Linked DNA regions of Homo sapiens: regions 2, 3, 4, 5, 6 and 7 are each linked to region 1. The links come from fine-mapping of genetic effects on gene expression. A gene starts in region 1. Each other region holds a variant in brackets. All regions are shown on one strand. Distances are between the middles of the regions.

The links. PIP is the estimated chance that this variant, and not a neighbour inherited with it, causes the effect.
Region 2: its variant is fine-mapped to the expression of RAB20 in tibial nerve (GTEx, PIP above 0.99).
Region 3: its variant is fine-mapped to the expression of RAB20 in whole blood (TOPMed, PIP above 0.99).
Region 4: its variant is fine-mapped to the expression of RAB20 in whole blood (TOPMed, PIP above 0.99).
Region 5: its variant is fine-mapped to the expression of RAB20 in whole blood (INTERVAL, PIP above 0.99).
Region 6: its variant is fine-mapped to the expression of RAB20 in monocytes after LPS (Fairfax 2014, PIP 0.95).
Region 7: its variant is fine-mapped to the expression of RAB20 in whole blood (TOPMed, PIP 0.92).

What each region holds. Positions count from the first base shown.
Region 1 is chr13:110,559,924-110,564,142 of GRCh38, reverse strand. RAB20 (RAB20, member RAS oncogene family) reads left to right here and starts at 2,421. Exons shown (of 2, transcript NM_017817.3): 1 at 2,421-2,795. The coding sequence starts at 2,624. RefSeq lists silencers at 2,292-2,741, 2,633-2,822, 2,802-2,861.
Region 2 is chr13:110,525,679-110,529,897 of GRCh38, reverse strand. All of the region lies in intron 1 of RAB20 (RAB20, member RAS oncogene family), which reads left to right. Among named protein-coding and RNA genes, the nearest start is that of COL4A2-AS1, 20 kb to the right of the region's middle. RefSeq lists a silencer at 2,142-2,436 and enhancers at 3,617-3,686, 4,137-4,186. The variant G/A (reference allele first, on the strand shown) is at 2,449.
Region 3 is chr13:110,538,386-110,542,604 of GRCh38, reverse strand. All of the region lies in intron 1 of RAB20 (RAB20, member RAS oncogene family), which reads left to right. Among named protein-coding and RNA genes, the nearest start is that of RAB20, 21 kb to the left of the region's middle. RefSeq lists a silencer at 3,722-3,771. The variant G/C (reference allele first, on the strand shown) is at 2,445.
Region 4 is chr13:110,518,706-110,522,924 of GRCh38, reverse strand. No RefSeq gene overlaps it. Among named protein-coding and RNA genes, the nearest start is that of COL4A2-AS1, 13 kb to the right of the region's middle. RefSeq lists an enhancer at 990-1,069. The variant G/C (reference allele first, on the strand shown) is at 2,244.
Region 5 is chr13:110,503,954-110,508,163 of GRCh38, reverse strand. It overlaps COL4A2 (collagen type IV alpha 2 chain), which reads right to left. Exons shown (of 48, transcript NM_001846.4): 44 at 4,171-4,210; 45 at 3,900-4,016; 46 at 1,558-1,749; 47 at 1-229. It overlaps COL4A2-AS1 (COL4A2 antisense RNA 1), which reads left to right. Exons shown (of 3, transcript NR_046583.1): 1 at 1-65; 2 at 413-517. Among named protein-coding and RNA genes, the nearest start is that of COL4A2-AS1, 2.1 kb to the left of the region's middle. RefSeq lists enhancers at 1-62, 63-564. The variant C/T (reference allele first, on the strand shown) is at 1,993.
Region 6 is chr13:110,467,002-110,471,129 of GRCh38, reverse strand. It overlaps COL4A2 (collagen type IV alpha 2 chain), which reads right to left. Exons shown (of 48, transcript NM_001846.4): 27 at 4,034-4,090; 28 at 1,806-1,913. Among named protein-coding and RNA genes, the nearest start is that of COL4A2-AS2, 5.8 kb to the right of the region's middle. RefSeq lists a silencer at 1,194-1,399. The variant G/T (reference allele first, on the strand shown) is at 2,033.
Region 7 is chr13:110,484,459-110,488,677 of GRCh38, reverse strand. COL4A2 (collagen type IV alpha 2 chain) reads right to left here. Exons shown (of 48, transcript NM_001846.4): 33 at 3,651-3,773; 34 at 2,842-3,023. Among named protein-coding and RNA genes, the nearest start is that of COL4A2-AS1, 22 kb to the left of the region's middle. RefSeq lists enhancers at 1,094-1,930, 1,931-2,768, 2,769-3,606, 3,607-4,219. The variant C/G (reference allele first, on the strand shown) is at 1,687.

The DNA of each region.
Region 1 (4,219 bases):
CCATGTAGAAAGGCTTAGTAGGTGGATGAAGAAATGGACAAAGAGCTCAGGTGAGAGAAGCAGACAGGGGGTAAAATTTGGAGAATCAAAAAGCATGCTCCAGGAAGTGATTAAACTTCCTGATGGTAAAAAAGTAGAAAGAAGTGTAAAAATTCTAGGTGAGCCTTGAACACCCGCTGAATAAATGGAGAGGTATACCATGTTCATAAATGGGACATTTTAATATTATAAAGATATCCACTCTTCCTAAATTTAACTATATATGTCATTAATGTGTTTCCTGAGGTTAGATACATTGATTCCAGAATTCATATGGAAGTGTAAATGTTCCAGAATAGTCAAAGCAACTTTGGACTAGGACTACAGGTGCACACCACCATGCATGGCAAATTTTTTCTGTAATTTTCATAGAGACGGGGGTCTCCCTATGTTGCCAGGCTAATCTTGAACTCCTGGGCTCAAAGGATCCATCTGCCTCGGCCTCTCAGAGTGGTGGGATTACAGGTGTGTGCCACTGCGCCTGGCCAACAGGCACCAAACCTGACTCATGTTTGTGTCGTCCCAGGCCAGGCACTGTAGCTTGTGTGAAAATTGTCAGAATCGAAATGGAGCCGCTAATGTTAAGAAAACCCTGACAAACAGAGCCGGGGAAGGCCATGAAGAGAGGGTTCTTGCGCGTGCATGCCTGATAACAAAAAGGACTCTCTGGAAAAACCGCAACCTTGCACAAAGGCCACTGCAATCTCCCACAAAAAACTAGTCCTGCAAGGACATGGCCCAGCCACTGGCTGTCCTACTTTGAACTGGCATCGCCTTCGTTATGGATCTTTGTAGCCACAGATAATTATTTTCAAACAATTGTGCAATCCGCCTCATTTTTTTTAAAGCCTTTGCTTTCCTTGCCTCTCTGAATATGCACAAGTTTACCATGGCATGCATATTTCTACTGCAAAGCTCTATTGCAAAATAAATATCTGTTTCTTTTAGAGATCCTCTCTGTTATTTAGGTTGTCACTTGCATGCAACAGGCATTGAATAAATGCTGAATTGACTTAAATTTGTTCTGAGGATGAGGCAGTGCTGGCTGAGAAGGAGCCGGGGTCTCCTGGTGCGCTTTCCACGCCCCAGAAGGTCCGCTTCCACCTCAGCCCCACACTGCTCGGTCTCAGCAACCTGACATGCCAGGGCTGAGCAGGTACGAAATACCTTGGCATTCCTGCCTTGTCGGAGTCTCAGGGCACCTACGAAGGAGGCAACGGGCCTATTTCCCTTTACAGGACACCTTCAGGACACGGGTTTTAACCTGCTCAGGGTCTCATCGCCTTTCCCAGCCAGGCCAGCGGCCAGAGTGACACTGTCCCCCAGGGTTTAACTTAGAGTCCATTCTACCTCTCATTTTCTCTAAAAAACCCCAACCAACCAACTAACCAAATTCTACACGCTGCATATTTTAAAAGCATTTCAAGGTTTATCCTTTAAAACGGAAGGAGGACCTGGGAGGCCGAAGCGGGTGGATCACGAGGTCAGGAGTTCGAGACCAGCCTGGCCAACATGGTGAAACCCCGTGTCTACTAAAAATACAAAAATTAGCCGGGCATGGTGGCACATACCTGTAATCCCGCCTACTCGGGAGGCTGAGGCAGGAGAATCGCTTGAAACCGGAAGGCGGAGGTTGCAGTGAGCCGAGATCGCGCACTGCTCTCCAGCTTGGGCAACAACAGCAAAACTCCGTGTCAAAAATAAAAAAAAAAAAAAAAAAAGAAGGAGGAAATATTTCTCAAGTAGCGACTGCAACTTCCATAGTCAAATTTTCATTCCAAGCTATAAATGGAGATGACTGTCCACTTTTCAGGACAAAAAGCTTCTTGCAAAAGTAGAAGAGCAAAAGCAAAATCCTCCACTAGAAAGCGCCCCCATCTCTAATCTGTAACAGTGAGAGCCTCAGGACGAGTTCCGCAGACGCTCATTTAAAGCAAACTTTTTCAATGACCTTGAGGGTGGCTGTACTTACACGCGGAGAAGCAAATCGACCGCAGCTGGAAAGGCGCTGGGTCGAGCGTGAGAGGAACACGGGTTTTACCTAAGGGAGAGTGGAAGAGAGAAGGGGGTTCCCCAAGGGCCCCGGCCCCTTCGCCTCGTTCGGGCCCCGCGGCCAAGCTCCTCGCACCGCAGCCCCGGCTGTGCAGAAGCGGAGGGGCGGAAGGTGCTCTCAGAACTTTCATTTTCCACCCTGCAGCAGTCCCGAGCCTCGGCTGGAGAACTCGGATGCTTGCGAAACGGCGAGGTCCAGCAGGGGCGGGACGGGGGCGGTGGGCGGAGGAGGATAGGGCGGGGCCGCGGCGGTGAAAGGGCCCGGGGGCGGGGGCGGGGGCGGGGCGAGGCGAGGCCGCCGCGGTCCGGGCCCCCGACGTGGGCTCCGTGCTCTGCACCCAGCTCCTTCCCGGGCGCGCACACGCGCTTCCTCTCTTGAGCTCCCGGGCGTCCGGAGGCGAAGGTCCCGGAGCGTTCACGAGAATCCGGGTCCCGGCGAGTCCGGGGTCCGCTCCTCCAGCTGCGCCCAGGGCGCACGAGCCGGCCAGCCTCGGGGAGAGGGCGCGGGGGCGCTGGGGGTTCTTACGGGAAGATGAGGAAGCCCGACAGCAAGATCGTGCTCCTGGGGGACATGAACGTGGGGAAGACGTCGCTGCTGCAGCGGTATATGGAGCGGCGCTTCCCGGACACGGTCAGCACGGTGGGCGGCGCCTTCTACCTGAAGCAGTGGCGCTCCTACAACATCTCCATCTGGGACACCGCAGGTGAGGCCGGCGCCGCATGAGCCACACCGCCCTGGGGCTCCGCCGGGGACGGGGGGCGCGGGGCTTCCAGCAGGGCACCCGGCCGCGCACAGGGTCCCGGCCTCGGACAGCAAATGCCTCCTTCTCGGGGTTTCCCACTCGTCCTCCCTTGCTGGTTGGGCTGAGCGCTGCCTCTCAGCCACTCAGTGACCTCAGGGACAACCCAAGTTGCAGAGAACCCGCTGGTCATTTGTGTACCTAAGCTGCCTTTGCTCCCGAGCCCCGCGTTCCTGCTCTGCCGCCCTGGGAACCAGAGACGCTCCTCTGTGGCTGCTTTGTTAGGTATTTTCAGTTTTCACGTACCCGTAGGAACATGATATCCTTTGAGATTCACTTGAGGGGTGAGCAGAGCTGGTGTTATTAGCCCCTTTCTAAGAAAAAGTAAAATGAGGCACAGAGTGTTCCCCCCTGTTGGGTTTAGTCAGGAGAGAGGAAATAAAACTGGAGCCTCCGGACCTCTTAGCCCGGAGCATATCTGCCTTTTACAGTTAATCTTCTGCTTGATCTTGGCTCAGATACGTCATATGGGTTTGGGTTGGAGTGACTTCCGGTGGAAGCATTTTTAAGATAGGTAATGAGTTATTTTTATTGTGTAGTATTTGTGACTTTTCAAAAGTACAACTTAGAGGATCTCAATTCAGGCTTTCTGTTTAACTTTGGAAAATAACACTGGTGATTGTAGCATTGCAATGGAATATATTTCCTTCTCCTTACAAAAGAATAAGATATTGTAAGTGAATGAAGAAACTGGAAATAGTGTGACACATTTTCAATGAGTGTGAGTTTTTAGAAGCCTGAAACTCTGAAAGTTCTGACTTCTTTTATGTTAGCATCTTAAAAAGTCATATACCCAAAGGCCCCGTCCAGAATTCTTAAATTGCCATCTTGGGTGTATCAGTATGCTGAATAAACAAGATGATAATGAATTCTCTCTTTAAAACTGAATTAACGAAGCTCACAGAGGTACTTCCAGTTCTCCCCCTCCCTTTTGCCTTCTTTGATGCTTTTTTATTATTATCCCAGTTAACATCGTGACTAATTTATTGGCAATCATCTTGTGAAAACAATGTCCCCCAGGTAAAGAGGTGCATTTCCCTGATCTTTGCTCCAACTCTGTCTTCTGCCTCAGGCTGCAGGATGAGGTTTACTGAGCTGACTCCCTCACACTGAGCATTTGGTAACGATGGAACACACGCTCTAGAAGTCAAATCGAACCCAATTCACGAACCCAATTTGCTTCTGTACAAAGTCAAATTGAACCCAATTTGGTTTTGTACAAAGCTTTGCCCCTCTGCTGCTTTTGCTGGTTGGCTGGGATTTACTGCTGCCCTTGGTTTACAAGTAGCAAGGTTAATGCAGGAGTGTTATTGGGGGACCCTAACCGA
Region 2 (4,219 bases), 34 kb after region 1:
CAGATCACTTACGGATTTGCTACATAGACGAGTAATAATTCCTGGACAAGTCGAACCTAGAGCCCCAGGCTCCGGTCACTCACCCATCCTCCCGTCTGCTTGGCCTGGAGACAGCCCAGGCAAAAAGGCGGGAGAGTCTGGCGGAAGGCTGGGCTCCTTCCTCAGGCTTGAACCCGTGCCCCCAGCCCTGATGATGTCAGGCCCGTGTTGGTAGTGGCCACACAGGCTCGGCAGCCTGGCTCCGTTCACCAGACCAGGGTTGGCAGCTCACTGACCCTTGGCTGCATTGGTTGAATTTGAACCAATTTGTGATTTTTCTCTTTTGCCCTGTTTCTGGGGCAGCCTGGGGCTCTGGCATCCCCAGAATTGGACCTGAGGCTGTTTATTTCTCCAGGAAAGTCCAGGTAAACCACCAGAACTCTCAGTGCTTTGGCTTCACGATTGGTACTGACGGACTCCGGTCTGGGGGAGAAGGCAATAGAGATAGAGATGCCTGATCCTGTTTCCAGGGAGAGGGACTTTGAAGTACTCAGTTTAAGCCCATACTTGTAGACAGGAAATCAATATTCTGAGAGATACAGGGGCTGACATGTGTATGGGGTTGGCAGCAGGGGGCTGACGGCCCGGCTCAGAGCACATTCACAAACTTCCAGAAAACGCGTGAGGGTCCTTGGATTCAAATACACTGTGAATCTGTCAAAGCCAAGTGCAAAAGGTCAAGTTGTAGTGACACCATTTTATTTTCATTGTCTTATGTTCACTCTCATGCCTTACATACCAGAGCCCCTACTCAAATTCAATTAGGATTAAATTCAGAACTTCTGTTCCCTGCGGGACTGGCCCTTCTTGGTGTGGACAATGCGCTCATTGAGAGCAGCCTGACTCTTCCATTAGCAATCCTAAAAGCTATACATTATCTCCAAAGCAGTATTTTAGAATTTCAAATATGAAAACTGCTTGCTTGTAAATTCTTTAGCTGGGGCAACTGCATTTAATTGGTTTGCATTCATTAATGGGTAGATAACAGATTATAGGGTTCAAGCAACAATTCTTACTTTTTTCTGGCTAGCATTTGTGATTCTTCAGTTCCTGTTTCCTTTCATTACTAAGATCTTTCCTTTTATATTATTATTTCCTTTTTTAGTTTTTTAAAGGCAAATCAGGCATTTTTATCTGGAATGGAAAACTATTTTAGGCATAGGCATCAACACGGTTCTCCCTTTGGCCCTAGTGAACTATGTAACAGAGACTTGAAAACCATTCTTCCAGGGTAGCTGGAGTGCCCCTGACTCCGCATTCCCATAGTCACACTCTTGTGAAATCTGGTGGGTAGAAGCTGATGACGTTTTTAGCTCATGTAAAAACCTCATGATGCCTGGACTGTTATCTATGGGATTAGTGTCCCTGAAACAAAAGTCTTAGTACTGTGGTAATGACGAAGAAGCATTTTTCTTTCTTTTCTGTTTTTTGTTTTTTTTTTTTTTGAGATGGAGTTTCACTCTTGCCCAGGCTGGAGTGCAGTGGCGCTATCTCAGCTCACCGCAACCTCCGCCTCCCAGGTTCAAGCAGTTCTCCTGCCTCAGCCTCCCAAGTAGCTGGGATTATAGGCACATGCCACCATGCCTGGCTAATTTTGTATTTTTAGTAGAGATGGGTTTTCTCTGCGTTGGTCAGGCTGGTCTCGAACTCCCGAACTCAGGTGATCCGCCCACCCCGGCGTCCCAAAGTGCTGGGATTCCAGGCATGAGTCTCCGGCCTTTTTCTTTCCTTTATTATTACCATTTTAAATTTATTTTAGATATGGGGTCTCACTGTTGCTCAGGCTGGAGTGCAGTGGCATGATCATAGCTTATTGCAGCCTCGAACTCCTTGGCTCAAGCAGTCTTCCCTCCTCAGCCTCCCGAGTAGCTGGGACTACAGGCATGCGTCACCATGCCTGGCTAATTAAAGTGTATGTGTGTGTGTGTGTGTGTGTGTGTGTGTGTGTGTGTGTGTGTATTTGTAGAGATAGGAGCCTTGCTATGCTGCCCAAGCTGGGCTCCAACTCCTGGCCTCAAGCAATCCTCCTGCCCTAGCCTGTTCTTTTTGAAGCTAATGCCTGCTGTATTGGGTTTTAAAGGCTTTTGATCATCATCTTCTGTAGTGGGAGAATGACTGTGGATTCCGGGGACACTGTCTGATTTCTGCCTGCTGGGGTCCAGTCCAGCTTGACTGGAAACGGATTGACTTCTCAGTCTGAAGCTGACCCCTGGTAGGCGTGCGGAAGGGAGGAATGTTGCCCTTCAGGTGCTGAATTCCAGAGCACAAGCTGCTTGCCAACAGGGTGGCTCTGTCGCCCAAACAACAGCATTCCCAGGCTGGCTTTTCCCAGAAGAGGGAGGTGACCCGGGTAGCTCTCGCACTTTGACCCTCAGACTGGCAGCAGGGCACATTCTTCTGACTCCTACC[G/A]GAGCTGGTCTGGGCTCAGCTCCCAGCTCGCTTTCCCTCCACATCCCCAAAGGGCACACTGTCGGCTTTGCTGAAGGGGGAGCTGGAGTCCACGCTCGGGGCCTGGGAGACCACAGTGGTCAGTAGACAGGTCTGTCTGGCTCTTCTCACAGGACATGAGTGTGTGTCTCTGTGGGCGCCTCTCTCCAGGGTTGCCCAAGGGGTGACCAGCCTGCCTCAAAATCCAGGCAGCATCGCCCAGCAAGGTTTGAGGACTTGGCGTCATCAGAATGTGTGGCCATTTCAGAAAGATTGGGGATGGGAATGGGATGAAATTTGGTTGTGCTTCTTGGCTATTTGGCTCTAAACAGTGGTTTATTGGCAAAGGACAGTCTGCCTTAGAGAGCCACATGTGTGCAGGTGTCATGCGTTCAGTCCATGCTCCAAAGCCCCACAGACCAAGGGGCCTTAACTTCATTTGTGTCAAGACCCCTCGGCCCCCGAGGGGTACAAGCCCAGGACCCCTTCTCAGAACACTATGCCCAAGTGCGTGCAGTCACATACAAAGGTAACCAGCTGTCCTTAAGTACAGTCGTCTTGAGCCTTTTTAAATTATGATTGATATGTGGTTCATGGTCCACATATTAATGAATGAAGGCATGGCAGGTCTGAAGGGTCGTGGGCATCACGCTGGAGTGTCTGAGGCATCTGGCATGCGGATGGAAGCACCTGCTGGCCCTGTTGGTGATGAGTGCCCCTTACTGCCATTTCTGCAGTTTGCTGCCAATATTTGTGGTGAAAGGAAATGGTAAATTTCAGGTAGAGGGTGGTGAAAACAAAGATGATGTTTTCTCCCTCATTCAAGGTCATGGACCCTGTGAATTTGGTTTATGACCCCAGTGGTTAAGAGCCCTTGCTAGTGGTCGACACTGTCCACACACTCAGGGGAAGTTGCCCTCAGAGTGACATGGGACCATTTATAATTTAGAAGCTGCCAATGATGGGCCACTGTTGCATTTTGGTTTGCCTAAATGTGATCTTTAGAAAATTTTGAATTAGTTTTGAGTGCTTAAAACTTGGGAGATTAAAATCCACATTGTTAGCTTCTTTTTAAAAAATCAGAACCAGGCTTACTTCTCCCAGGCGAGGGATTGGAATGGGGCCTGGACACTCCCTGGGTGCCACCTCTCTCTGCGCCAGTGCCCCAGCAGCCTCATCCTTGTTCAGAGGCACTTGACCTTGGCGTTCTGAGCTCGAGAGTGGAGGCCAGTGCTGTCAGTCGTTCCCAGCTCTCCCTCCTCTTGGCCTAAGGGCATGGCCCGGGAGGCCACACATGCCCCAGGGAGGAGGGGATGAGCTGGCCTGCAGCAGGTGCTATGGGAGCTTCCAGGCCTGTCTGCAGAGGCTCCTTGGGATGGCGTCTGAGCACAGGTCTCAGTCTCATTCCTCTTCGAAAGCGTGCCCCCGGCAGGTGTGGTTGGGAGCAGGTGCTTTGTGGTTGGAAGATCTCACTTGGGGTTTGCTTGTTGGTGATTGAAACAAATGCATCACCAGGAGCGTCTGTGAAGCCCCTTCCTGCCAGCAGGGAGGGCCCATGCCATGCACAGCCTGCTCGGTCCTCGAGAGGCAGGTGGGGGCCAAGGTGCATGCTGCTGCCTCTCCCACAGCTGCTTCCTGAGAGCTCGTCCCCCCAGTGCGGCAGATGTGTCCAACGATGAAAAGCACGCCAAGGCTGGGAGGACATACCAGCAGGCGTGCTCGGCTCGGCCCTCCCTGCTGGGGGCTCTCACCT
Region 3 (4,219 bases), 22 kb after region 1:
AAACCAGATACCGAAAGACAAATACCACATAGTCTCACTGATGCCTGGCATCTGAACAAGTTGAACTCACTGAAGCAGAGTGGAATGGTGGTTACAAGGAGCTGGCAGGTGGGTGGGGAGAGGGAATTGGGGAGTTTTTAATCAAAGGCTACGAAGGTTCAGTTCTGCAGGCTGAATAAGTTCTGGAGGTCTAATGTAGAGCCCCAGGCAGGTGACTGTAGTTAACCAGTACCATGTGATAGGCTTGAAATTGGCTGAGAGGGTGGAGTTTCAATGTTCTGTCTGCACACCCATGGTAGCTATGTGCAGTGATAGATGTGTTAATTAGCTTAATAGGGTAATCATTTCATGATACATCAAAATATCATGTTGTACATCTGAAATATTTACAAATTTTGCTTGTCATTTATACCCCAGTAAAGCTGAGAATAAAATACAGCAAGCGTTCTGATTAAAAACAAAACAAAACTCGTCATCCTGCATGTTGTGCACATGTACCCTAAAACTTAAAGTATAATAATAATAAAATTAAAACAAAACAAAACAAAAACAAAACCAACAAACACCCTTATTATTTGGCAGTTCCTTCCCCAGGCTGTTTGCACCCCGTTCCTGCTGATGGTGGCCACTGGTTACTGTCTCCGTGTGTGAGCATCTGGGGTCTCTGATTCCAGATGTGTGAAATGTGGACACAGTGGGGAGAAAGAAATGCAACTGTGAGTATGTGTATGTGTGCATGGCATGTACGTGCATGTATGTGAGAGTGTGTGTGTGTGTGTGTGTGTGTGGCTGGACACTCCGCCTGGCACTTGAAGTAAACTCGCAGTCAGCTAGCCCTTAGGGAAGTCCCTGGAAGGAACACTGATTTGGTTAAAGGGATCAGATCCAGTTGGTGCAGGGACACTGAGGAAGCTGAGCCCCAGGCAGGCGAAGGGCTCTGGCCCAGAGAATTCCACTAATACCAAGATTAGGGCAGGCAGTTCCCTGCTAACTTGGCTGCTTTTCCTGAAAAATGAGAAGTCAGAAGGAATGGAGGAAGTTTTAAATACTTTCCAAATTGACATTGTCACTGGAAATCTTCTAGCGAATCTTGTGTTAATGAGAAGATAAGAACGAGGTGAGCTTTCATGTGGCAGTTGTATTGCTATTGTGCCTGGGCTGATAACAATTTCTGGATTGTTTGAAGACACTTCGTTCCCATGTGCTAAAGCTGGTGGCCTATTGTTTACTTAGCCAGGCACTTTTCTACAGCAGTTGCAAAAGCACATTCTAAACCTAACTAATTCCAAATCTGATTAACTCTGGCCTGTTACCCTGTGCCACAGACCCAGGCAGGAGTGATGTTCCTGAGGCCTGGGGGTCAGCTTTCACTGCTTGAGGAATCTGTTGCTGCGCCGTGACCGTGACCAGGTGGAGAGTATCAGAGGAAGGCAGGAGAGTGGTGAGGTGTGAAAAGATCAGCTGTCAGGTTTTACTTAGAGTGAGGGGTGGTCGGCTCTCACCTTGGGTTGATGAGAGGCTGAAGCGTGGCCGTCTCCTCCTCGGCAAGGTCCTCGGGCTGGCAGCAGCAGAACCCAGGACCCAGCCAGGCCTCCTGAGCCAGATTCTGTACTTTAACCCAACAGCCAGGTAACTCCCATTCCAGGGGCATGGGCAGCTGCGCGGGGCTTGCTGCAGCCCAGCAGAGACCAGCCGTGAGGGTCGGGGCAGTGGAGAGCATGCTCTTCCAGCTCCTCGCCTTCTTTGTAGACACTATTTTGCGTGAGAGAGATACGTATATATTCCATATATAATGTGGAGGTTTTTTATTGTGGTATAATATACATAACAAAATTTACTATTTTAACTTTTTTTTTTTTTTTGAGACGGAGTTTCACTCTCGTTGCCCAGGCTGGAGTGCAATGGCGCGATCGCAGCTCACTGCAACCTCCGCCTCCTGGGTTCAAGAGATTCTCCTGCCTCAGCCTCCCGAGTAGCTGGGATTAGAGGCACCCACCACTCCGCCTGGCTAATTTTGTATTTTTAGTAGAGACAGGGTTTCACCATGCTGGCCAGGCTGGTCTCGAACTCCTGACCTCAGGTGATCCACCTGCCTCGGCCTCCCAAAGTGCTGGGATTACAGGCATGAGCCACTGCGCCCGGCCTCCCTGTTTAGATTTAAAAAGTTTTCTTAATATGATATTTATAATTCAGTCTTGACTTTGAAACAGGTTAAAATGTGCTTTGAAAAGAGCTGAAATAATTTTAGTTTTACTTTATTTGGAGACATTAGCAAATACCTGCACTTTTATTTGATAATCTCATTCTAAACATTCGTTATTACAGGACAACAGAGTATCTCTTGAAGGTAAAGGAGATTGGATTACATATGCTGGCATGTGCCAGTGTGTGTTTTAAAGCTAAGTCTGTTATATACGTGTATTTTTTGGGACTTGCCTGTTTCT[G/C]TTAATATCGGAGTGTTAAAGAACATCTCTGAGTAATTTGGTTTTGTCATTGAACTATTTTTAGTACATTCATGTCTGAAGAGTGATGTGACTTGAGAACTAAGCTTCTTCCTGCTTTACATTCATCATTTTTCCAGAAGCCACGTAGTGGGCCACAGGTGGAACTACTCTACCTGCAGTTAGTGATGTGAGTGGTTCATGTGGCGTATGACACTTGCTTTATTTTTAGTTTATCCTTCAGATCATCAAGAAGAAACAACAGAAATGACACATGCAGATTTGGGTAAAAATGCATTGATGTGGCCGGGCGCGGTGGCTCATGCCTGTAATCCCAGCACCTTGGGAGGCTGAGGCGGGTGGATCACCTGAGGTCAGGAGTTCGAGACCAGCCTGGCCAACATGGTGATACCCCGTCTCTACTAAAAATACAAAAATTAGCCAGGCGTGGTGGCGGGTGCCTGTAATCCCGGTTACTTGGGAGGCAGAGGCAAGAGAATCGCTTGAGCCCGGGAAGCGGAGGTTGCAGTGAGCCGAGATTGCACCATTGCACTCCAGCCTGGGCAACAAGAGTGAGACTCCATCTCAAAAAAAAAAAACAAAAAACCCAAAAACAAAAACAAAAAACAAAAAATGCATTGATGTATATTTAAAGGTGAAAAATCCATTTTCCTGGAATAATTCTCCTCTGCCTCATATGTTGCAGTTCCGTTAACTGGAAATAGTTTTAGGTTTGGACTCTTTTTTTCAAAAAGGAAAAAAGCTTCATTTCGCGGGCAGGGGTTTGGATGGCTGTCGGTCAGTATTTGCCAAGCAGTCCTGGTAGTTGAGTCTCTGGATGTAGACAGTCATTAAGCAGGACTGCAATACTGATTTTTATTTTATTACCAATATAAACCCTTGGACTTGCTAGACTAGAAAAGTAATCATCCTCCTTTATGTCATAAAGCACAGCTATGTTTTTGAATGCCCTTTAATTGTCATAGACTATTCAGAACAAAATTAAAGCAACTATAAATGCAAGCAACTACATTGGATTACTGAATTTGAATTATTAGCTTATTTAAAAAATAAGGTCACCTAATCGCCTCCTTTCTTCCTGTGATTGATTAATTTGTCTTGAGGTTTTAGTTCTTTCTTCTGGCAGAAAAGCATTACTATTAGAGGGGTAGGGTTGTTGTCAACTCCCACAGTCATATCCGGCTGCTGGATGTTGGCTCAGAGTATTTTCTTGGTACAATTGAGCAGAGTTTTCATGAGATGTTTCCTGGATGGTGACAGGTGACCATTGTGGGGCTCTTGCCTGGCCAGGGACAGTGGAGGAAGCTTGGTCTCAGAGTAAGAACGTGAGGGAAGTGCACAGCTGAGAACACAGGATGGTTCTTTCACGGTCTCGCCCCTGCTGCCTTGCTGGGAGGAAACAGCCGTCCCCAGGGAGCTGGTTTTCTGGGAGTGGATTCAGGCATTTTGCTCTTGATGCATAGCTTGACTTTTGGGTTTGCTCAGCCTTTCTTTATTTCTTTTTCTTTTCTTTTCTTTTCTTTCTTTTTTTTTTTTTTTTTTTTTGAGAGAAGATCTCACCCAGGCTGGAGTGCAGTGGTGTGATCATAGCTCACTACAACCTCTGCCTCCTGGGCTCAGGTGATCCTCCCACCCCAACCTACCCAGTAGCTGGGACCACAGGGATGCACCACCACACCCTGCTAATTTTTGTATTTTTTGGAGAGACAAAGTCTCACCATGTTGCCCAGGCTGGTCTTGGACTCCTGAGCTCAAGC
Region 4 (4,219 bases), 41 kb after region 1:
TGCAGAATATTTAGATTGGCCCATCTGTCTAGTTTTCTTGATGACTTGAATTCCAATAATAGTAGCAAAGCTTAAAGCTCTGGTTCTGCTGAAGTCTGGGGCATCTGAGCACCCAGGTCTCTGAGTCAGAAACCCCCTTCGGGTCTGCTGCTGCTGGCCGTGGGGTGGCTGCTTTATTGGAAGATGTCAGACAGAGGTGCCAGGAGACAGCAGATTTGTTTTCCCAGAAATGTGACTGAACGAAAGCAGGCTGGGGTCGGGGCTGTTTGTTGGGAGGCAATGTGGGGCAGATGGCACTGGGCAGTGGGTTTCATAAGTGCTGTTTTCTTTCTTTTTTTTTTTTTTTTTTGTGATAGGGTCTTGCTCTGTCACCAGGTTGGAGTGCAGTGGCGTGATCTTAGCTCACTGCAGACTGTACCTCCGGGTTCAAGCAATCCTCCCGACTCAGCCTCCCAACATGCTGGGATTACAGGCATGTGCCACCATGCCCCAATAATTTTTTTTTTTTTGGTAGAGTTGGGGTTTTGCCATGTTGCCCAGGCTGGTCTCAAACCCTTGAACTCAAGCAATCCTCCCTACTCAGCCTCCCAACATGCTGGGATTACAGGGTGCTCTGTTTTCTGGGGAGCTGTTCATAATTTGCTGAAGGCCTGTGCTCTCCGGTTTCTGGGCTGCTGCAGGCCTAACTTCTCCGCTCCTGTGGAGTGAGTGCTTTCAGGCAAGGAAGGGAGCTTGAACCCCAGGAGGAAGCACTGAGGCAACCCCTGCGATTGCAGGTCCTCAGCTCCCCTGAGATGTGGTTTCGGAGTTTAAAACTTCAGTTTCGCAACAGCAGCCCATTGAGAAGTGAACGCAAATCAGCCTGACTCGTGACTTTTTATTGACTTGGTTGAATATACCACTGTAGGGACAGAAGTTATATTTATTTTCTATAATGTGTATCTTTGCTAGTGACCCATCTAGGAAATAGGCTAATCAAAGAGACCTTGGAATCTTTTTTTTTTTTTTTTTTGAGACAGAGTCTCACTCTGTTGCCCAGGCTGGAGTGCAGTAGCACAATCTCAGCTCACTCACTGCAGCCTCGAACTCCTGAACACAAGTGATCCACCCACCTCAGTCACCCGAGTAGCTGGGACTACAGGGGTGTGTCAGTATGCCTAGCTAATTTTTTATTTTTATTTTTTGTAGAGATGAGGTCTTGCTGTGTTTCCCAGGCTGGTCTGGAACTCCTGGGCTCACGCAATCCTCCTGCCTCAGCCTCCCAAAGTGCGGGGATCATAAGCATGAGCTCTGGCCCTGGCCAGAGTCTTTCTTTGAAGGCTGTGAAGGGAGAGAAAGTATCATATGGCACTGTTTTTGCAGTTGGTGCTTGAAGGCAGGGAGGGCTGTATGAATGCCTGAGGCCCGTTCTTCCTGAACAGTCTTGGATTCGATTTCCCATCTGCTCCGGGCACCCAACAGCTTGTTTCCTCGAGTGGCCGCGTGCTCCGGGGATGGTGCCCATGGGTGGCACATTCTCCATCAACTCTGTTTAAGCATTTCATCCTATATGTGTTGTCCTAAAAATAAGCATCCCTGTGGGCTCCTTTTAAATGAGTTCCTCTGGGCAGTCGGCGCTGCAGTCTCTCCTATGCTAGCAACTTCCAGCTGCCCTTACAAGTGCTTTTGTAAGGGCATGAGGGGCTCATTAATTCAGCACATCTCACTGAGCACTCTCCACGGCCCTTCCTGGAGCTGAGCTATTGGGACAGTTTCAATGACAGTGCCGCCACAGGCCCCCTGGCACCCTGTGTCCTGGGCTGCATTCCAAGTGGACCTTGGATACCAGCCTGGCTCCTCGCTGGGGAGCCTGGTCTTGGGTCCTACTCCCCCACCCTCATCTCATGTGGCCTCTGTTTCCTTCCAGAAACCACGTCAGTTCTTGGAAAGCTTGAAATCCCTCGGTTGGGCAACTCAGCTGTTGGCGCAGATTTCCCCACTGGGTGTGGGTTTGAGCTCGTGACCTCGAGCATCCGTCTTTCCTTTGTACAAAGCGGCCACTCCAGGGAGGAGATGAGCAAGTGACGGTCCAGGGTTCATGGCTGTGTGTGGTCTTGGAGCTCCCTTCTGCACTTTCCAGCTGTCCATGTCCCCATGCAGATGAGAACCCTTTCCTCAATGACACCTCATAACCAGGTATTTCCTAGTGCCCTTAAAGCCTCGTGCCTGGCAGTGGTGTCAGGGAGTCCTGGGGTTGGGTATGT[G/C]GTAATCTGGGTGCTGTCAGTCAGAATGTCCCCTTCCCCAGGCTCCCAGGCCTAGTTTCTTAAAGAGTATGACGTTGCCATTTCTGGACCCAACTTCCTGGTTTAAACAGCCCTGCTGTGCCAGGAAAACAACCTCACATGAATGTTCCCAGCACATAGATCACCCCAGCACACGGGTGCCCCCCAGTACATGGGCCCCCCCCAGCACATGGATACCCCCAGCACACGGGCTCCCCCACCAGCACACGGATCTCCCCAGCACACGGGTTCCCTCCCCAGCACACGGGTTCCGCCAGCACATGGGTCCCCCCAGCACCCAGGTTCTCCCCAGCACACGGGTTCCCTCCCCAGCACACGGGTTCTCTCCCCAGCACGTGGATTCCCCCAGTACATGGATACCACCAGCACATGGATCCCCCCAGCACATAGGTCCCCCCAGCACACAGGTTCTCCCCAGCACACGGGTTCCCTCCCCGGCACACGGCTTCCCTCCCCAGCACACGGATCTCCCCAGCACACGGGTCTCCCCAGTACATGGATCCCCCCAGCACGTAGGTCCCTCCAGCACACAGGTCCCTCCAGCACACGGCTCCCCCCCAGCACACGGATCCCCCCAGCACACGGATACCACCAGCACACGGGTTCCCCCTCCCCCAGCACACAGATCTCCCTAGTATACGGGTCCCTCCAGCACACGGGTCCCCCTAGCACACGGATCCCCATAGCACACGGGTGCTCCCAGCACATGGATCCCTCCGGCAGAGGTGAGCTGCTGCTCAAGGCCCATGAGACAGACCCCATGAGACATGGAGATGGTGCCTGTCTTCCAGAGAGAAGGGGCAATGGCTCTGAGCTCGGCCTTCACTCCGTGCTCCTGGGAGACTCTAACCAGGCTGAGTCCCTCCTGAGCAATGACCACAAACCTCTGAAGAAGGAAGAAGAGTGGGACCCGGGCCCCAGAGACCCTGGTGGGAGTGCCGTGGTGTGGCCTCCAGGTGTTTGGAGGATTTCAAAGGCACAGATCCTCCCAGCCCTGGTTGGTGGAGTCCAGGTCGTATCTTCCCTTCTGTGGCCAGGCAGAGTGGCCGGTGCCCTCGTCCTCTTACATGCCCTTATTAGAAGCACAGACTCTTCTCCACAGTGTGCAGGGGTCTTCCATCCTCCCACTTCACAGAGCTGGATCTTTCGAGCCTCATTGTCGAAACAGGACAGAGAGGATGGGTGTGGTGGGTGGACGCACAGCTGAGACCCTGCTCACACAGCTGAGACCCTGCACACACGCACAGCTGAGACCTTGCTCACACAGCTGAGACCCTGCATGCACGCACAGCTGAGACCCTGCACGTGCGCACAGCCGAGACCCTGCATGCATAGCCAAGACCCTGCACGCACAGCAGAGACCCTGCACGCACAGCAGAGACCCTGCACACATGCACAGCTGAGACCCTGCTCACACAGCTGAGACCCTGCATACACAGTCGAGACCCTGCACACACGCACAGCTGAGACCCTGCTCACACAGCTGAGACCCTGCATGCACGCACAGCTGAGACCCTGCACGCACGCACAGCCGAGACCCTGCACGTGTGCACAGCCGAGACCCTGCATGCATAGCCAAGACCCTGCACGCACAGCAGAGACCCTGCACATACATGTGCCGCCTGCACTCAGCCTCCTCTGTGCCTGCTCTGGAAGCTCTTGGGCCCAGTCCTCCCTTGTGGTCCAGGCTGCCTCCTTCAGGGAGAGCTGACGCCTTCAGAGCAAGCGTCCTTGCGTGGTTATGAAGCTCTGTGTCCCTCCCCTTCACTTTGTGTTTGCCTTGAAGCCACTGGCCCAGCCCTCAGGTATCGGATCTGGAGGGCACCTTGCTGGAGGATATGTGGACCCAAGGCCCGAGAAGGTGCCTCCTGGGTCAGGGTGTCAGTGGCCGGAGTGAGACACGCCCAGGCCTTGGCTCCCAGCCCCACCCACTTCCT
Region 5 (4,210 bases), 56 kb after region 1:
GAGACATCCTGACTGTGGACCGCGATGGCGATGGCCGGGGCCTCACACACAGAACAGCGGCTGATGTAGGGCTTGATCTCGTCCTCGGCCACGGGCATCATGGGCAGCGGCGCAGTGGTAGAGAGCCAGTAGGACTTGTCGTTCCGGCTGGCATAGTAGCAGACATCACCAGGGTTGCAGTACAGGAAGGGCATGGTGCTGAACCGCGCCAGGCAGGAGCCCGCCAGCCCTGTGGAAGGAGGGGTCATGAGATCACAGTGCAGTGTGGCTAGAAGACGCACCTGCCAGCCCCAGCCAGGCCCAGGAGGCTGTGTGTCACGGACTCGCCCCAGGGCACCTGGTGGAGTTTAGCCACCTACTGGAGGGCCAGGCTAAGGCTTCCCAATTTCTTTCTTTTTCTCTTTTTGATCAGACTCCACTGGCATTTTGGAACAGCTCTGTTCTTCTACAAGTTCTCACACATACTGGGCCAAGTTGGATCACCAGGGAGTGGCGTCTTCATGGAATAGCATTTTGGGTGAGCCTTACCTTAGTGGGGTCTTAACAGCACTGGCCCCAAGAAAACTCTGATGGCCTCCAAGGGGTCGCTCTTTGACCCCAAGGAGCCACCCCAGAAGGAGTCCTGGCCCTTCTCCCTTCCATGTAGCTTTATTGCTTCTGGAGACTAAGATAGCCTTTATCTCCTGGCCACAACGAATGCTGCAGCTAAGCAGGTTTCCCTCTTCACATGGATTGCTGAAAAGCTCAGACCCAGAAGTGCAGCCACCTTTAGCAAACATGCCCGGTGCTAGGCTGCCTCCTTGGCCCTGTTCCTAGATCTATTTTTGGCCCTTATCCTTGGCGGCCTTTGCCCCGTTGTTCTTTAGAAACTCATTGTGGAGGCGGGGCGCACAGGCAGGAATGTGAAGGCACCATGAGCCAGCAACATGCTTCCCGGGGGCAGAACGCCTGATGTAACCTGCACCGAGGAGGCAGAACACAGCCAGTATCCCAGAGACCCTTCCCGTCACCCCCTCAAAGAGGACCTCAGACTAAGCTACCTCCACTTGTAATTTGTGTGTATTGCATTTTCTGTATTCGAAGTCGCGTTAATGCCTTTCAAAGGCTTCCTTAAATAAGAGCATGCACACGTGTCCATGGGTCCATTTTCCTCGGGGGGCTGTATGGGAGAGTCTTACATGAACCCCAGCCCCTCATGGCCCCTGCCTGACTCCAAGTCTACAGAACTTGGGTCAAAAACAAGAAGGAGGTGAAGTAATTGGTGGTCTCCACTGGAGAGGGGTCGGGGGTCAGACGGGTCACATGGGAGCCTGCGGAAGTCAATACCAGGTTAAAAGGCAGGTCCCTGTGTTAAGGTCCTGAGGTTTAAGGGCTTTGTAAGGCTTCTGCTTCAAAGGCCGTTTTAATCTTTCTGCACTCGAGGAATGTAGATGGACCCTTCCGTCAGGGGAACTTACCAGCCGTGGAGGGTTTGGGAGTCTCGCTGTGGCCCTTTGATCTTGGCCACTTCCGGGCCAGCCCTGAGCAGGCAACGGGGGCCGGGTGGGAGGTACCTACCCAGGTCCTGGTTGTGCGCCTTCTCCTGGCCCTCGAAGTACAGCAGGCTGTATCCACTCCAGAGTTTGTTCATGCCCACTGGGCACATGGGCTCCTGGTCCGTCTGGCTGTGCTTCACCAGGAGGTAGCCGATGCTGACGCTGCGGCCTGGCATACCCGGCAGGCCCGGGCTCCCTGGACGGCCTGGTGCACCTGCAGCCCGAGAAAGAGAGAGAGTGGACGGCCTGGTGCACCTGCAGCCCGAGAAAGAGAGAGAGTGGACGGCCTGGTGCACCTACAGCCTGAGAGAGAGAGAGAGAGTGGACGGCCTGGTGCACCTGCAGCCCGAGAGAGAGAGAGAGAGAGAGAGTGGACGGCCTGGTGTACCTGCAGCCCGAGAGAGAGAGTGAGTGGACGGCCTGGTGCACCTGCAGCCTGAGAGAGAGAGAGAGTGGA[C/T]GGCCTAGTGCACCTGCAGCCTGAGAAAGAGAGAGAGAGCAGCCCCCTTGACAGCCGCCCCACAGAAACCTCGGGACCCAGGAGTGCAGGGCAGTTTCCAGGTGCGCCTAGAACCATCGCTCTCCTTCCCCAGATCTTGGGGCTCAGTCTGTTGAGATCAGGAGACTCTTGGGAAGGATTTGATCCACACTTTGTTCTCAGTAGCATGAAATGATGGCAGTGAGGGCACTGGGCACAGAGGAGGGGTCCTTTCCATAAAAGACTCAGTCAGCCATAGGTAGGCATGTGCCCCTCAGGATGTGCCCAACGTGCCTGGCGTTGGAAGTGTCCGGAGGAGTATCGCAGGCCAGCCCCCACCCCCAGCAGTGGCCTCCCTCCGCTGGACACTTCCAGGAGACATGGCTCATCGCAGGCCATGCTGACTGCGCACTTGACCACAGCCTGGGTTAGAATGTTCTTTCTGCGTGCAGCCTCCTGTAACTCCTACCCGAGGAGCACACGGGGGTGGCTCATCTGCCTCCAGCACAGCAGCTCTGTGAATATTTCTCAGCTATCCCCAGTGACCCTTTCTCCCATTGTCCCCTCCCCTTCCAAGGGACACCCATGGTCATGGCCCTTTCTCCCAGGACACTTCCCCTCCACCATCCCTAGCTTGTCTCCTACCCTGGGCGGGCTCCCATTTGCTGGCATTTGTTTTCAGGTGCACCCCACACTACCCATAATTTGCCGGCTGCGGATCTGTCCCCAGGGGCAGGGGACTGCTATTTCCTTTGACTTGGACACCAATAGTACTACCCATGTTTAATTTTCTTTTTTTTTTTTGAGACGGAGTCTCGCTCTGTCCCCCAGGCTGGAGTGCAGTGGCGCGATCTTGGCTCATTGCAACCTCCACCTCCTGGGTTGAGGCCATTCTCCTGCCTCAGCCTCCCGAGTAGCTGGGACTACTGGCGCCCGCCACCACGCCCGGCTAATTTTTTGTATTTTTAGTAGAGACGGGGTTTCACCGTGTTAGCCAGGATGGTCTCGATCTCCTGCCCTTGTGATCCGCCCACCTCAGCCTCCCAAAGTGCTGGGATTACAGGCGTGAGCCACCGCGCCCGGCCCCTATGTTTAATTTTAATTTTAATTTTAATGCTCAGACCATTGGCTCAAACTGAGCTCAGGTTGATTAAGACAAATTTTGAGGTTTTTTTTTTTCATGAATAGCTGTTATTCCTGGCCTATTTCATTCTGTATATGTGCAAATAATTTTAAAAAATAAGACGACCAGGCACGGTGACTTACACCTGTAATCCCAGCACTTTGGGAGGCCAAGGCTGGCGGATCGCTCGAGGTCAGGAGTTCGAGACCAGCCTGGCCAACATGGTGAAACCCCGTCTCTACTACAAATACAAAAAAGTTAGCTGGGTATGGGGGCACATGCCTGTAGTCCCAACTACTTGGGAGGCTAAGACAGGAGAATCGCTTGAACCCGGGAGGCAGAAGCTGCAGTGAGCTGAGATTGCGCCACTGCACTCCAGCCTGGGTGAGACAGAGCGAGACTCTGTCCAAAAAAGAAAAAAAAGTAAGACAGGGCTTCGCAGTGCGGCTCTTGTACATTTTAATAGTCGGTTTCTTTTGGCTCCTTGTCTAATCCTGACCCTTGAAGTCTACTGATCCCTGCCGCCCACTCCACAGCACCGCAGGTGTCCCAGGAAAAGGAGGGAGGCTGTCCCAGGACTCGGGGCCAGGTGTTCTGCTGGGCATAGGAGTGTAGCTGCTACGCCCAGATTAGGAGCAGGAGGGTGGGGCAGCGCCTCATTTCTGGCTTTTCTGGGCTCTCGTGTGTCCCCTTCCTGCAGACCACAGTCTGTGAGTCAGATCCAGAGCACTAGGACCTGGGAAGGTCCTTCCCCACTGTCACTCACCTTCTTGGCCAATCGGCCCCTGGTGGCCTATGGGTCCTTCATCTCCCCGGAAGCCGGGAACAGCAGACACACCACCTCTTCCTTGGGGCCCAGCTTTCCCTGGAGCCCCACGGAAACCTGCAAGCCACCAAAGAAGCGTTATGGCTGGAAACTGACCACGCCTGGCACGGCCGGCGATCCACAAAGAGAACACAAGAGGACGCAATGCCAGCAGGCCCTGGCCTTGCCCGGGCAGCCCCGAGGGGCTCCAGGCCCCAGCTCAGCACTCTACCTGGTTCTCCGGGGGGGCCCTGGGGCCCCATCTCCCCCGG
Region 6 (4,128 bases), 93 kb after region 1:
CAAAATCATGAATGCTTAAACTTAGTATATATGAAATCATGAGAGTGGCAATGTTACACTTCTAAATATTTAGACACTTCCAGCAGGGCAACAAAACCACAGAGACCAACCCCTGGGGCAGAGGCATGGAGACTTCCTTTGCTTCATTCGAATGCAGAGTTGTTTTTACCAGGGCCTTGATACAGACACAGGAAGCCTGCTTCCCAATTTTGCAAAACATGGAGAAACGCATCATATGAAAGGAAACAGGGTCAGGGTTTGGAACAATCCCTACGGGCTGCAACACAAAATTCCGAAAGATACCATCTATCAGGGACGGACAGACACTTCTGCATTGAGGCTTAAATCAGCTATCTGAGTGGAGGTCAGGGGAGGGGCAGGGTTCAATTAGTCTTCACTGGGAACATTTGCAAGATGTTCAACCTAAGGGCGCAACAGTCCCGATGTTCTGTGTGATATTCCAGACATGGGGAGCGCTTTATTCAGTTTCTAGAGCCCAGTTGGAAAAGAATCCTGATAAGTGGGGGTCCTAGAAGGTTGCTCAGAATTCCAAGGGCATGGAACGATGTCATTAAAAGAAAGTATGTGTTCCCGGGGTCAGTTCTGCCTGTTCATGAGACGTCTGTGGGAGATGTGGCCGCCTCTCTCAGGGTGTGTGGTTATGAGGAAGTCAACTGTGTGGCTCAGGAACAGCCCGGTGAGAACTCCCTGGGAGGCAGGCTGTATTCCAGGGAGGAACTTTCTAGCAACAAGAGGGTTCCAATGTGCCACAGGTTCTAGGTGACAAGTGGGACTCCAGCAGAGGCTGCAGGAACCTGCCCAGGACCCTGTGGAAGGATGTTTCATCTCGGGTGGAAAGTTGTCCACAATGGCTTCCATGGTTTCATTAGACAAACACTATTGAAGATGTGTGCGGCCTGGCACAGTGGCTCACGCCTGTCATCCCAGCACTTTGGCAGGCTGAGGCGGGCAGATCACCTAATGTCAGGAGTTTGAGACCAGCCTGGCCAACATGGTGAAATCCCCGTCTCTACTGAAAATACAAAAATCAGCCAGGTGTGGTGGCACATGCCTGTAATCCCAGCTACTCAGGAGGCTGAGGCAGGAGAGTCGCTTGAACCCAGAAGGCGGAGGTTGCAGTGAGCTGAGATTGTGCCACTGCACTCCAGCCTGGGTGACAGAGCGAGATTCCATTTCATTAAAAAAAAAAAAAAAAAAAAAAAGACGTGTATGCCCCTGCAATCAAGGCAGTGCCATCACACTCATGCACATCGCCTGTGGCACAACTGCAAGACACCTATGTCTGCAGACGCCTGGCTGCATTCCAGAGCATGCTGACACGCAAGTGGGTACTCCTCACCAGAGCTGGTTAAGGGAAACCTCATTTTCCTCCACATACAGATTAATGCCTTAAGCTCTTGCAGCCACATTGTGAGAGGGCTATTTATGCCTTTAAGGGTTCTTTCAGGAGAGGATAACTTTGTGTTGCCCTTAGAATGTTTAATATTAATCATTATTAACACTGAGGACATACCTGGGAGACAGGTGTTGCGGAGGACAGCCATTCCGAAACACCTGTCTCCTTTTTCCTGCAAGATCTGTAGATAGCTTCTGCAAAAACCCAGTACAATATCAGTTATGAAAAATCAAGAATTTCTAATCTCCCAAGGACAAATGCAAAAGTTGTCAAGTATTTGTTAAAACAGCTTCTACAAAGTGGAAGATAATAGAGCTGGATGCTTATGAATCACACACAGGTTCCCGCTGGAACCCAGGGGCTGAATGGGGGTCTGATCTCAACTCACCTGGGGGTCCTGGGAACCCTTCACGACCTGCGTCTCCTGGCAAGCCCCTGGGCCCTGGTCCTCCATCAGCTCCTGCGAAGCCTGGGATTCCTCGGAGGCCTTTGGCACCTAAATAACCAAATAAACCACAAACCACATCAGGCTCCACGAGGATAAATGGGCATGGTCATGCTTGGCATCTGACTTAATGTGGATCTCATGAAACCGGGAAATGATGAGGCTGGGGG[G/T]AATATCAGCCTGAAACAGCACCTCCAGGCTTACAGAATGATTTTCAGTGTTTAAAATCCTGTTTACGGACTGGAACCATAAGAATGATAATATCCAATATTTAGATTCTACAGTGCTCTAAATGAGGGCTTTGGAGGTGGGGTCAGATGCTTGGCTATAAATTTTGGCCCTACCATTCTATCTGTGTGACCGTGGACAACTTTCTGTGCCTCAGTTTCCTCACCTGTAAAGTGGGGAGAAGGATCGCCTGCCTCATGAGGACGCCACGAGGACTATGAGGTGACTCTTTTCAAACACTTGAATCCTGCTTGGCCCAGTGTGTGGGCTCCAGAAGTGTTTTCTGATAATTGAAGGGCTGAGGTTCCTCAGCCATGTCACAAAACCCATCTGCCACACTTTTTTATCCCCGTTCCTGGCGCCTCTTGGGAAGGGGATGTGTGTGATCAAACCCACCCTCACTCTTAGAAAGTGGAGTGCGGACAGCAGGAGTGAGAGGGAGGAGCGGATGGGAGGCCAGCAAGGGGCTCCCAGTAATGGGGGCCTGGGCATGAAATGGAAATAACTGGGTATGGCTGGGGGAGCCCCGGAGCCTCAGAAACCCACACTCGCATCACTGGAGCTTTCCCGGAGACCGGCCTTGGCACACGGCTGTAGTCTGGGTGTGTGCTGAGCGTGCTGGCCTCTGGTTCTCCCTGACCACCTGAGACATGCAGAGTTGTCACCATTTTGGGGGTTGCTGTATGAGTGACGGTGTTGAAATCCATGGATGGAATTAGACCGGGGGCAGGTCTAATGGAACGCGGAAGATACAAGCTCAGTTCTCAGAAGACAACACAAGGAGCCTTTACCTCTGCTCACAGTGCAAATGATACCTCTGCATTTGTCCTGTGCTCCCCAGGCCCTGTGATCACGGTGCACTCCGAAGACCCCCTTAAGGTGCAGGGCACATAGAATGTGTCCGTCCACTTTCCTAACTCTCATTGCTGTTCATACTACACTGGTGTCGCTCTCTACAGTTTATCACGGGAAGCAGTGAGGGCATGATTTGTGCAGCAGGAAGCATCTAGAACACCTGTCTGCACTATTCATCTTGCATAGGTGGGGACTTAGTTCCAGAAGAAACAAGTGAGAACAGCTCTGGCTGTGTCTGGTGCTTGTGACACTGAGTTACCCAAGTGACATGCTTCCCCGGCCCCATCACAGGCCGAGTGGAAGAGACATCCAAAGGGGAATTCCTACTGCTCAGAGAACTTGCTTTTCTCAGGCTGATGGACACAGGCATAGAGCCACCTCTCAGGGTCCAGCCCTCCTCCTGCTTGAGTGGAAGCCCTGGCTCTGTGTTCCCCGATGCTCACAGGCCCACGGAGACCCTGGAGTGCAGGGCAGCAGAATCGCAGCGCAGGCGGGACGGCAGTGGTGGCCAGCCAGGCCTGCACCGCCAACACTGGACACGCAGGCGGCCTTAGGCATGGGCTCTGTGAAGGGCACCCAGACTCTTTCTCACATGGGCTGAGAGATGGCCTGGGCCAGCAGATAGAAGCCCAGGTCCTCCCAGGTGCTAGAGACAAAACACTCTAGCCTTGTTTATTCCCGTTTCCTGTTAATCAAAACCCAAATGAAAGCATCCTCTCCTGTAGGTTCTTCCCCTAGATCCTGGGATGGAAAGGCATAAAAAGAAAATACATAGAAGTGCAACCCCTTTCCAGTCCTAAACACGAGGCTTCCATCTCTGCCCCTGGGGGCGTTCCCCTGCAGCCATGGCTGAATTTTCTCTTCTAGCCTGGCCCCAACTAAGTGTCAGCTACCAGACTCCTTTTTCTATAGTGGCAAATGACAGTGGGCTCCCTGTAGGCGCAAGACCAGTTTGTGCTGAGATGCTGGACACGACCATGTCTGGGGTGGGGGATGCAGGACCAGAGGAAAGATGGGCGGGGGAGACACAGCAGTGTGAAGATGTGGGAGGAAGGCTGGGTGCACTCCAGGTTCCCTCCGTGCATTACCTGTGGGGCCTGGGGGTCCTGGCAGGCCTGGCAATCCCTTGGGCCCTCCTATGCAACCTGGGGACAGAAAGGAGAAAAGATGAGCCCAAGCAATC
Region 7 (4,219 bases), 75 kb after region 1:
TTTTGCTTAAGGTCACTCAGCCAGCAAGTGGCAGAACCGGGATTTCAGTTTGGGCAGCCAGACTGCAGAGCTTGCTCTCTGCAGATTATAACACAGATATGGGGCTGTGCGCCTCCATCTGTGCACAGAGGGAGACTTCTCCAGAAAGACACAGGTGGCTGGTAAGGAAATTGAGAAGATGCCTGAGTTGCTCGGTGGCTTCCTGGAAGCCCTAGTTTTCCCCTCCAGAGTGGCTTCCTCCCCAGAGGGAGCATGAGAGTTCTGGTCTACCTGGGTGCCACTGGGACTTTAGTACTACAGCATCAATGTACAAGCATGGCCTAACATGAGTCGCTGCAGTATTAATATAGCTAGGCCGGGGGTGGTGGCTCAGGCCTAGAATCCCAGCACTTTGGGAGGCCGAGGTGGGTGGACTGCCTGAGGTCAGGAGTTCAAGACCAGCCTGGCCAACATGGTGAAACCCTGTCTCTACTAAAAATACAAAATTAGCTGGGCGTGGTGGCGTGCGCCTGTAATCCCAGCTACTTGGGAGGCTGTGGCAGGGGAATCGCTTGAACCAGGAGGCAGTGGTTGCAGTGAGCTAAGATCATGCCATTGCACTCCAGCCTGGGTGACAGAGTGAGACTCTGTCTCAAAAAACAAAACAAAACAAAACAAAAGCTCCTTTGTGGGAGGAAGGGGGAGGGTATCCACAGGCTGCACCTTTGTTTAGGTAATGCTCTATTTTTCTTTCTCAAAGCTTACTTTTCTGAAGCAAAACTTAAATACAGTAATGTCCACTCATCTTAAACGCACAGCTCAATGCATCTGAACTCGTGTGTCACTGAAAGACACAGAACACTGTCAGCACTCTATGACAACCCCACCTAAAGCAGCTGTGCTCCCGATACCCCATCTAACAGCCTTGTCAGTTCTTGAACTTCACATCGATGAAACTGAATCGTGTACTTTTCTGTTTCTGGTTTATTTTGTTCAACATAAAGTTTGGAAATGAAGTTAGGTTGTTGGATTTTACCAAGAATTCTCATTTATTGCTGTGTATGGAGATAAAATGCACAGATAATGCTGTGTCTGGTTAGAATATACCACGTTCATTTATTCTTTTCCCTGTTGATGGACATTTGGGCTGTTTCCTAGTTTCGAGCTGTTATGAATAAAGGTCCTTTGGATGTTGTAGGTGTCTTTGGCAGAAACAGGCATCTTTCTTTTTTCTTGTCTTTTTTTTGAGATGGAGTCTTGCTTTGTCACCCAAGCTGGAGTGCAACGGCGCAATCTCGGCTCACTGCAACCTCCGCCTCCTGGGTTCCAGCGATTCTTCCGCCTCGGCCTCCCCAGTAGCTGGGATTATGAGTGCGCAGCACCAAACCCGGTTAATTTTTTATATTTTTGGTAGAGACGGGGTTTCACCCTGTTGGCCAGGCTAGTCTCGATCTCCTGACCACAAGTGATCTGCCTGCCTTGGCCTCCCAAAGTGCTGGGATTATAGGCAAGAGCCACTGCACCTGGCTGGCATCTTTCTTTTTTAAAGTGACCTGAATAGCACACACAGACTGGCTAGAAGATACTCTCAGCTGCAGATTTTGGGAGTGAGGGGAGGAAGACCCCTGAAGAATTCTGTACACCAAGGTGGGCCAGACAGACACACAGGCAGGCCCTGGCCTGCTACTAAGGGTTCACACTGTCAGG[C/G]CTCTGAGCCCAAGCTAAGCAATCATATCCCCTGTGACCTGCACGTACACATCCAGATGGCCGGTTTCTGCCTTAACTGATGACATTCCACCACAAAAGAAGTGAAAATGGCCTGTTCCTGCCTTAACTGATGACATTATCTTGTGAAATTCCTTCTCCTGGCTCAGCCTGGCTCAAAAGCTCCCCTACTGAGCACCTTGTGACCCCCACTCCTGCCCGCCAGAGAACAACCCCCCTTTTTCCTTTACCTACCCAAATCCTATAAAACGGCCCCACCCCTATCTCCCTTCGCTGACTCTCTTTTCAGACTCAGCCTGCCTGCACCCAGGTGAAATTAACAGCTTGATTGCTCACACAAAGCCTGTTTGGTGGTCTTTTCACACGGACGCGACTGAAACACATCAAGGGGCCCAGACCTTCTGATCTGCTCCAAATGTGCCCATCCCCCTGGGAAGGCCAGCCGTGTGCTAGGGACTGTGAGAATACACTATCTTCATATGAACGAGGCTAGAAATGGAATTCTAGGAAACGGAATCTATGGGGAGCCACGCTGTGCTATGTTATACACACTGTCTATACAGCACTCAAGAAAACTGCAAGGTAGCTACTACCTTCATTCTGCAGCTGAGGGAGAAGGTGTGGAGAAGAGAGCCCTGCCCAGGGTCAGGGCTCACCATTGTTACCATCACAACAGCGTGTCTGGCCCATGTCAAGTGCTCAACAGACATCCGCTGAACAAAGGCTGAGTGAACGGTGGCCCGGATGGGAAGCCAGGCTGCCGGGCCCAGGTCTACGCTGTGATTCGGCCATGGGCTCTCAGGCCTGGTGTCACTGATGTGCTCAATTTTAGAGCTCTGATCCCTGAAAATTCAAGTTTTGTTCTCTCAAGGCCACCATGAAAAATGCAGACAACATGCTTCACCCAGCACAAGCCCACAGAAGGGCCACGGCAGCCGGTTGGACTCACATCACATCTGCATGGTGTCCAAGTGCAGCAGCTCCTTCCAGGGCTGTGTGGACCCCACCAAGCCTGAGGCTGCCCTGAACCTGCCACTGACACTCTCACCCTAGCAAATTCCAGACCAAAGCATGTCCATTCACAAGCAAAGGGGAGAGGAGCTCACAGAACAAGGGGAGTAAAAGACGCCCACTCACCCGGCTTCCTATGAATCCTGGGAATCCCGTAATTCCAGGGGGGCCAGCCACCCCAGGGAATCCTGGCAAACCGGGGATGCCGGGGACTCCGATGTCTCCCTTGACTCCTTTGATGTGGCCGGGCCTCCCAGGCAGCCCAGGGATTCCTGACAGCCCTGGGATGCCTGGCATTCCTTGGATACCTGCAGGAAGACCCTGGTGTGTAACACTCTGGTGAGGACGCAGCACCCGCCCTCCAGTTTTCAATTTTGCAGCCTGGATGCATTTTGCTGTCCTACGTGCTGTGAATCTTTTTTTTTTTTTTTTTTTTTTTTGAGACGGAGTCTCGCTCTGTCGCCCAGGCTGGAGTGCAGTGGCGCAATCTCGGCTCACTACAAGCTCTGCCTCCCCGGTTCACGCCATTCTCCTGCCTCAGCCTCCTAAGTAGTTGGGACTACAGGCGCCCACCACCATGCCGGCTAATTTTTTTGTATTTTTAGTAGAGACGGGGTTTCACCGTGTTAGCCAGGATGGTCTTGATCTCCTCACCTTGTGATCCACCCGCCTCGGCCTCCCAAAGTGCTGGGATTACAGGCGTGAGCCACCGCGCCCGGCCAGTGCTGCAAATCTTAAGATGGGAAACCGAGGTTACTCAGGCATCAGAGAACAACCCTGCGCCAGCTATGGACACACAGGGCGCCCAGAGATGAAAAGCACGAAGAAAGCCAGGTGGAGGGCACGGGCGTCTCTGGGGACGGAGAAGGGCACGAGCTGGTGCGGGCTGGGGCGGCAGGGACTAGGGGCCCCTGGCTGCAGGTCAGAAGCCTCACCTTTTGCGCCCAGGTATCCTTTCAGCCCCATAGGCCCTTCATCTCCTTTCTCTCCTTTAATGTCTTTCATTCCTGGCAGGATGACAGGAGGTGGTCCTGGGGGCCCAGGGTCCCCTCGGCTGCCTGGAAGGGAATAGAGTGCTGTCATTTTCTGGGGGCTCCAGACCACGCAGGAGAACACAGGTGAAGGCCTGGTCCCTGAGCCATAGGGCTGCACGTCTCCCCCAAGCAGGGAAGCCTTGGAGAGAGACCAAGGGCGCCGGAGAAGCCTCTCCTGTGTCCATCGGAGTAGTTGGAGTTGGGGGTGGCTCCAGGGTCCTGGGCCTGGGGCTGGTGTCACTGAGCACACAGCACCACAGTAGGGGGACGTGCCTGCCAGCAGATGCAGAGGGAGCGGTCAAAGCCAGTGTGACTCCCATAGGATGCTTTGTGAGAAGGTCATTTTGTTGTGTGTGCTCTGATGAGACCATGATGGACCTCGGTCACAAGCAGGAAGGCCCGTGAGGCAGGCGCCAGCTCCGTGCCCTCCTGTAGGCACCTTCACAGGGAGGAGAAGCATGGAAGGGAGG